Linked DNA regions of Homo sapiens. The protein of the gene in region 2 purifies or fractionates together with the protein of the main gene of each other region. This does not show direct contact. Each region holds a gene or a part of one and is shown on either strand. Other genes may lie near its edges. The genes, in order: GNA11 and SLC68A1.

Evidence for each region.
Region 1: the proteins of SLC68A1 (region 2) and GNA11 purify together in Homo sapiens (affinity purification with mass spectrometry, with the first as the bait; one large-scale study listed by BioGRID). This does not show direct contact.

Annotation. Positions count from the first base shown.
Region 1 is NC_000019.10:3,100,674-3,104,481, reverse strand, and holds part of GNA11 (guanine nucleotide-binding protein subunit alpha-11), read right to left. Parts: intron 1-3,808. UniProt on the Homo sapiens protein: Guanine nucleotide-binding proteins (G proteins) function as transducers downstream of G protein-coupled receptors (GPCRs) in numerous signaling cascades.
Region 2 is NC_000010.11:102,474,334-102,477,717, reverse strand, and holds the end of SLC68A1 (transmembrane protein 180), read right to left. Parts: intron 1,997-3,384; coding exon 1,734-1,996; 3' UTR 673-1,733; downstream 1-672.

The DNA.
Region 1 (3,808 bases), on a different chromosome or scaffold from region 2:
GTGCTTTGCCTGTGCAAGCATGGTTCCTGGTGGGCCTGCCACAGGCCGCCCCACAGTGGACCCCAGACGCTAGGGAGCCTGCAGGAGGTACATCCTCAGGTACACTCAGCACGCCACCACTAGGAGGGGCCAGAGTCCGCCCACTGCTCCCACTGAGCCAGCTTCCAGAGGAGAAAACCACCCTCCCGACTGGACCCGCTGGCCAAGATCTGGAGAGGCCAACCAGGAGGAACGAAGTCCGTGCCCCAGCTTCCTTTTCCCCGGTGGGAAAGGAAAACGGAAGAAAAGGAGGCTCCAAGCGCCACAAGAGGGCGCAGCCCTGACAGCAGGAGCTGGGGGCTCATCCGATGCTCAAGATTCAAAGCCGGGCGCGGTGGCTCACGCCTGTAATCCCAGCACTTTGAGGCCGAGGCAGGTGGATCATTTGAGGTCAGGAGTTCAAGACCAGCCTAGCCAACATGGTGAAACCCCGTCTCTACCAAAAAATTTACAAAAATGGCCAGGCATGGTGGCTCACACCTGTAATCCCGGCACTTTGGGAGGCCAAGGTGGGCGGATCACGAGGTCAGGAGATCGAGACCATCCTGGCTAACACGGTGAAACCGCGTCTCCACTAAAACTACAAAAAATTAGCCGGGCATGGTGGCAGGCGCCTGAAAGCTGAGGCAGGAGAATGGCGTGAATCAGGAGGCGGAGCTTGTGGTGAGCTGAGATCGTGCCACTGCACTCCAGCCTAGGCGACAGAGCAAGACTCTTGTCTCAAAAAAAAAAAATTTACAAAAAAAAAAATTAGCTGGGTGTGGCAGTGGGCGCTTGTAATCCCAGCTACTCAGGAGGCTGAGGCAGGAGAAACGCTTGAACCCAAGAGACAGAGGTGAGCAAACATTCTACCACTGCACTCCAGCCTGGGTGACAAGTGAGACCTTGTCTCAAAAAAAAAAAAAAAAAAAAAAAAAAAAAAAGATTCAAGGCCGGGCGCAGTGGCTCACGCCTGTAATCCCAGCACTTTGGGAGGCCAAGGCAAGCGGATCACCTGAGGTCAGAAGTTGGAGACCAGCCTGGCCAACATAGTGAAACCACATCTCCACTAAAAATACAAAAATTAGCCGGGTGTGGTGGCATGCGCCTGTAATCCCAGCTTCTCGGGAGGCTGAGGCAGGAGAATCACTTGAACCAGGAGGCAGAGGTTGCAGTGAGCCAAGACTGCACCACTGCACTCCAGCCTGGGCAACAGAGTGAGACTCTCTCTCAAAAATAAATAAATAAATAAATAAATAACAAATAAAAAGTATATAAAGATTCAAGTAACCCATGACCCCAGTGGCAGGGCTGAGACCTGGGAGCCGACACCTGGGAGTCAGACTTCCAGGGTTCCAGGCTGCTTCCCGTCTACGACGCCTGAGCCGAGCCCCACAGTGCCCAAGACTGTGAGATGTGGGCCGAGAAGCCAGGAAGCCCCCACCAGGCTGCGGGGAGGCCAGGCCAGTGCACACACCGGGAGCAAGGCCAGAGCCACAGGGCCCCACCTGGGGGATACACATGACCGTTTGTCAGCACCCATGAGAAGGCGGGTGGTGGCAGCCCACGCGTGTGCATGCGTGTGCCTGTGATCTTGGCTCTTGGAAACAGCCAGGAAATCTAACCCTGACCAAGAGCTGTACTGGTGGGTGTGGGGTCAGAGCCAGGCACCAACCTGACGCAGGGGCCCGAGGAGGGGCAGCCCTCCTGCAGCGGAGGACGGACGCCCCTCATCCAGCTTCACAAGGGGCCTCATGCCTGCTTCGCTTCAGTCTCAGAACCCCAGGAGGTAGACAGCACCTCAGCGCCTGATTGACTGGAGGGGAAACTGAGGCACGGAGAGGACAAGCTGCCTCCCTGAAGTCACACGACCCCTAATGGCAGGGCCTGAAGAGACTTCGGTCTCCTGGCTCCGCAGCTTATCCCCGGCAGGCAGCCCAGGACGTGCTCTTCTGCTCCAGCACGCACCCTCAGGCAGGGAGGCAAGAAGACAAGGGGGCGCCCTGAGAGAGGAAGTGCACCCGGCTCACCCCGCTGCTGAGGCTCAAGAAAGAGCTGCCCCGAAACTCACTACCCCAGGTGGGGCATGACAGCCAGGGGCAGCGATGGCAGGACAGCCTCTGGACTGGAACCCAATCCCATCTCCACAGCAGCAGAGTCCCCAGGTGCCTCAAAGGTGCAGATACTAACTGCCCCTCGCCGGTCAGGGGCCATGCCACCTTGTTCTGTTCCCACTGAGGCTTCCGTGCAGACTGGCTCCCAAGTGGGAGTGACCCCACCCCTCCACTGGAAGCGGATGGTGTCACTCACTCATGTTTTCTACGTTTTTTTTTTGTTTGTTTTGTTTTGTTTGTTTGTTTGTTTTTGAGACAGAACCTCTCCCTCGGTCGCCCAGGCTGGAGTGCAGTGGTGCAATCTCGGCTCACTGCAACCTCTGCCTCCTGGACTCAAGTGATCCTCCCACCTTAGCCACCCAGGTAGCTGGGACTACAGGTGCACATCACCAAGTCTGGCTAATTTTTTGCATTTTTAGTAGAGACAGGGGTCTCGTCATGTTGCCCAGGCTGGTCTCGAACTCCTGGACTTGAGTGATCTGCCTGACTCGGCCTCTCAAAGTACTTGGATTACAGGCATGAGCCACCGCACCTGGCCATACAAAATTTCTAAGCTCCCGTCTCCTCACGTGCTGGGTCTTCCCACAGCCATTACTGAAGCCCCCCGACAGCCTGGGAGACTGGTCCCCAGCCTTGTGCAGCCCATCTAACCCAGTTGTGGGCACTGGCCTGGACATCTCCACCTGAGGGACAGGGACAGACCCCCGCCCCTGCCCAGCTCACTGACCATCGCCAAAGAGTGTGGGATAGGATCACTGATGGGGGAAGGGCAGGAGTCCGGAGCCCAGGCCCCCTCTCCAGACATCTACCCAGGCCACCAGCAAGGGCCTGACCGGTCAACCCTCGCCGCATCCAGTGGGACTAAGGCCGAGCAAACCAGTGTGGCTGGAGAAAAGGCTGCTTCATTCATCCCACAGCGTGGACCCGGCCCCACAGTCCCTGGGGGCTGCATTCATCCCACAGCGTGGACCCAGCCCCACCACAGCCGTGGGGGCTGCACTCATCCCACAGTGTGGACCTGGCCCCACAGTCCCTGGGGATTAAGACAGGCAACAGAACAGCCACATCTCTGCAGGCCGCACAAGTCCCGCTCGGTGGCGGGGCCCAGCACCCATCAGTGTGGACACGGTTAACAATAGCAACAGACACAGCGCCCTCCAGTTTGACCACACCCTTCAGCCCCCCACCCCACTCCGTCCCTGCAGGGCCCCTGAAACATCAGGGTGACCACACAGTTTGACAGAAGAGAAAACGGAGCCTGGGCCACCGGACGGTGCGGTACCCAGAACACCAACTCCGAGGTCAGACAGGGACAGAAACCTGGGCCAGCACCGTCCCTCCTGGAGCCTCCCAGGCCTTGGGGTCCCCATGTGGACGCCATCCAGGGAGCACCACCGCCCAGGGTTACTCCGCAGCTTTTCGGTGCAAAGCAGCCAGCAGGAAGGGCAGCCACAGGGGACAAGAGGGCTCCCTCCCCGCTGTCTGCCGCACTGGCCTCAGCTCATTTAATCCTTCCACAATCCTACAGGGGGAGGGACAGCCTTCCCACGTGACCGATGGGGAAACTGAGGCCGGGAGAGGGAAGTGACTCGCCCCTGGCTCCCTCCAGAGTGTGCCCCCACTGCCCCGTGCTGGCCAGCCCAGGGCAGCCCAGGCCACAGGCAGGACTCAGAAAG
Region 2 (3,384 bases):
TCAAAATCCTACTGCCCAGGCCATACCCCAGACACATTAAGTCAGAATCCCAAGGAATGGAACTGAGATGTCAGTATTTTTTAAGTTCCCCAGGGGACCCCAAGGCTGAGAACCTCGGGCCTAAAAGAGGCTCCTCTCTCTTTGACTACCATGTCCAGCAGTGATACATGGGAAATGCACTGAGGCCTAATGGTCATTTTGGGCCCGAGTGCCTATGCAGTTACCAATCTATGTTTTTCTCCCTGGCATCTTGGTAACCCACCAAGGTGGGTTTTTTTTTTCTTTGAGATGGAGTCTCATTCTGTCGCCCAGGTTGGAGTGCATGCAGTGGCGCGATCAATGCAACCTCCTCCTCCTGGGTTCAAGCGATTCTCCTGCCCCAGCCTCCCAAGTAGCTGGGATTACAGGCACACACCACTACACCTGGCTAATTTTTGTATTTTTAGTAGAGATGGGGTTTTGCCATGTTGGCTCAGGCTGGTCTCAAACTCCAGACCTCAGGTGATCCACCCACCTCGGCTTCCCAAAGTGCTGGGATTACAGGCATGAGCCACTGCGCCCGGCCTACCTACCACTCTTATTCAGAAAAATGCTCTCAGGGGCTTTTTCTAGTCAGTAAGGAATCCTGGTTCTCAACCCCAGCAACCCACCACTCACTCACACAGCACAGACTTGAGGAAAAAGAATGGCTGACTTTAATCAGTCTATAAGGAAATAAACATCTTTAGAGGCCGTGTGGGGGTGGGGGAGCCCTGCAGCAGAGGAGGCATGCCACTTCAAGCACAGCTGAAGCAGAGAAACCTCTCAGAGAAACCACTAGAAGGGTGGACGGAGTGGGAGGTGGGACTTACAGTCAGCTTTCCCTGACTGGGCAAAAGGGAGCAGTTGCAGTATTAAAAGTGGTTCCTGAGTCCACCACAGCGGCCAGCTCCAGTCAGGCAGCGGGATGGGCTCCCACGCCCCATGGCAGGCCTGTGTGCACCACAGGGCAGCCCCCTCCCTTCTTGGTCCTCTTCTGTCCTCCTGCCTTACAAGAGAAGCACGTCCCTGAGCACATATGGCCCAGCCCTTGCCCAAGCTGAGCCAGACAGGTAAGCAGAGACTTTCACTGCAGTGATGCTTCTGGCTCAGCCCCAGGAGCTACCCGCTGCCATGTCTTCCAGGCTGCACTAGAGGAAGGCAGTGGAGCAGGGTGCTGGTAAAACTAGCTCCTGGCCGAGTGCGGTGGCTCATGCCTGTATTCCCAGCACTTTGGGAGACCAAGGCAGGCAGATCACTTGAGGTCAGGAGTTCGAGACCAGCCTGGCCAATGTGGTGAAACCCTGTCTCTACTAAATAATACAAAAATTAGGTTGGCCACAGTGGCTCACGCCTGTAATCCCAGCACTCTGGGAGGCCGAGGCGGGCTGATCACCTAAGGTCAGGGGTTTGAGACTAGCCTGGCCAACATGATGAAACCCTGTCTCTACTAAAAATACAAAAAGTAGCCGGGCATGGTGGCACGCTCCTATAATCCCACCTACTCGGGAGGCTGAGGCAGGATAATTGCTTGAACCTGGGTGGTGGTTTCAGTGAGCCCAGATTGCACCACTGCAACAGATCCATTTTTTTGGGCAACAGCTCCAAAAAAAAAAAAAAAAAACTATGAAATCCTTAAAAAAAAAACCAAAAAAAACTGGCTCCTTCCCCAGGCTGCCAGCAGCATCCTCAGTGGGGTGACCTTGCCACAGCTCTCACACCATCTTAACATCCAGGGTTTGGGCCTGTGACAGGTTCTGGCGCTGGGCCTTGACCATGTGCAGGCGTCTCCCATGCAGCGTGAACTGGGACCAGGTGAAGAGCTGCAGCAGAGCACAGGTGATGGGCACCAGCACCAGCAGGTAGAAGCAGCCCTGGCGGAGCGTCGGGGCCTGTGCAGGGGCTGGAGCTGGGGGCTCTGGCCAGGGATGGGCACTCCCCACAGGGGTTATGAGGGACTGCTGGAAGAGGTCATGACCTAGGACAAGAGAGCACAGAAAGACCATGGTCAGCCCACTGTCCTCCAAGCCTTGGTGCCCTCCAAGTCTATGGTGTGACATCTCAGACACCACATGGACGTGTCCAGACCACAACTCCTGATTCCTCCAAACCCACTCCTCTCCTACTCTTCCCATCTCAGTGACGGGCACCACCATCCACCCAATAACTCAGGCCCAAAACCTCAAAGTCCTCCTCAGTTCCCTGGTTGGTTTCACGCCATCACTCCCCAACACCCAATCCTTCATCTCCCCCCAACTCCAAAACGTATCCCACCTGCCACCACCCTGGCCCAAGTCTCCACGGCCTCTGCCAGTCTCCCAAAGATGTCCCTGCTGTCCCCATTCTGGCCTCCCTATGATCTGCTGTCCATATGGCAGCCAGAGTGAACTTTTTTTTTTTTGGAAAGAGGGAGTCTCGCTCTGTCACCTAGGCTGGAGTGAAGTAGCACGATCTCCACTCACTGCAACCTCGGCCTCCCAGTTTCAAGCGATTCTCCTGCCTCAGCTTCCCAAATAGCTGGGGCTACAGGCATGCGCCACCACACCCAGCTAATTTTTGTATTTTTTAGTAGAGGCGGGGGTTTCACTATATGTTGACCAGGCTGGTCTCAAACTCCTGACCTCAGGTGATCTGCCCTCCTCAGCCTCCCAAAGTGCTGGGATTACAGGTGTGAGCCACCTCACCCAGCCCAGAGTGAATTTTGTTAAAAAGTCAATCACACTACGTCACTTCCCTGTTTAAAACCCTCCCTGGCCGGGCGTGGTGGCTCATGCCTGTAATCCCAGCACTTTGGGAGGCCAAGGTGGGTGGATCACCTGAGCTCAGGAGTTTGAGACCAGCCTGGGCAACCTGGCAAAACCCCATCTCTACATAAAATACAAAAAGTTACCCAGGCATGGTGGCATACGCCTGTGGTCCCAACTACTTGGGAGGCTAGGTGGCAGGCTCACTTGAACCTGGGAGGTCGAGGCTGCAGTGAGCCAAGATCGTGCCACTGCACTCCAGCCTGGGTGACAGGGAGACCCTATCTCAAAAAGTAAATAAATAAATAAATAAAAATAAAACCCTCCCAACAGCTTGCTTCCAACACTGCCCTGATCAACAAAGTCCTCTTCGCTTTTCCAGCCACATTTCCTAATCACCCCTGACACCCTGGGCCTTTGCGCCTGCTGTTCCCTCTGCCTGCGATTCACTGAGACCTTTTCTAGACAAATCCTTGCCATTCAGCTCACATCCTGAGGGGCACCTTCTCGGAGAGGCCTTCCCTGATAATACTACATAGCTTCTTGGTCACGCCATCTCACATCACCTTAATTTCACCATAACACTATTACTGCCTGATAATGTCTTGTTTGGATGTTTATT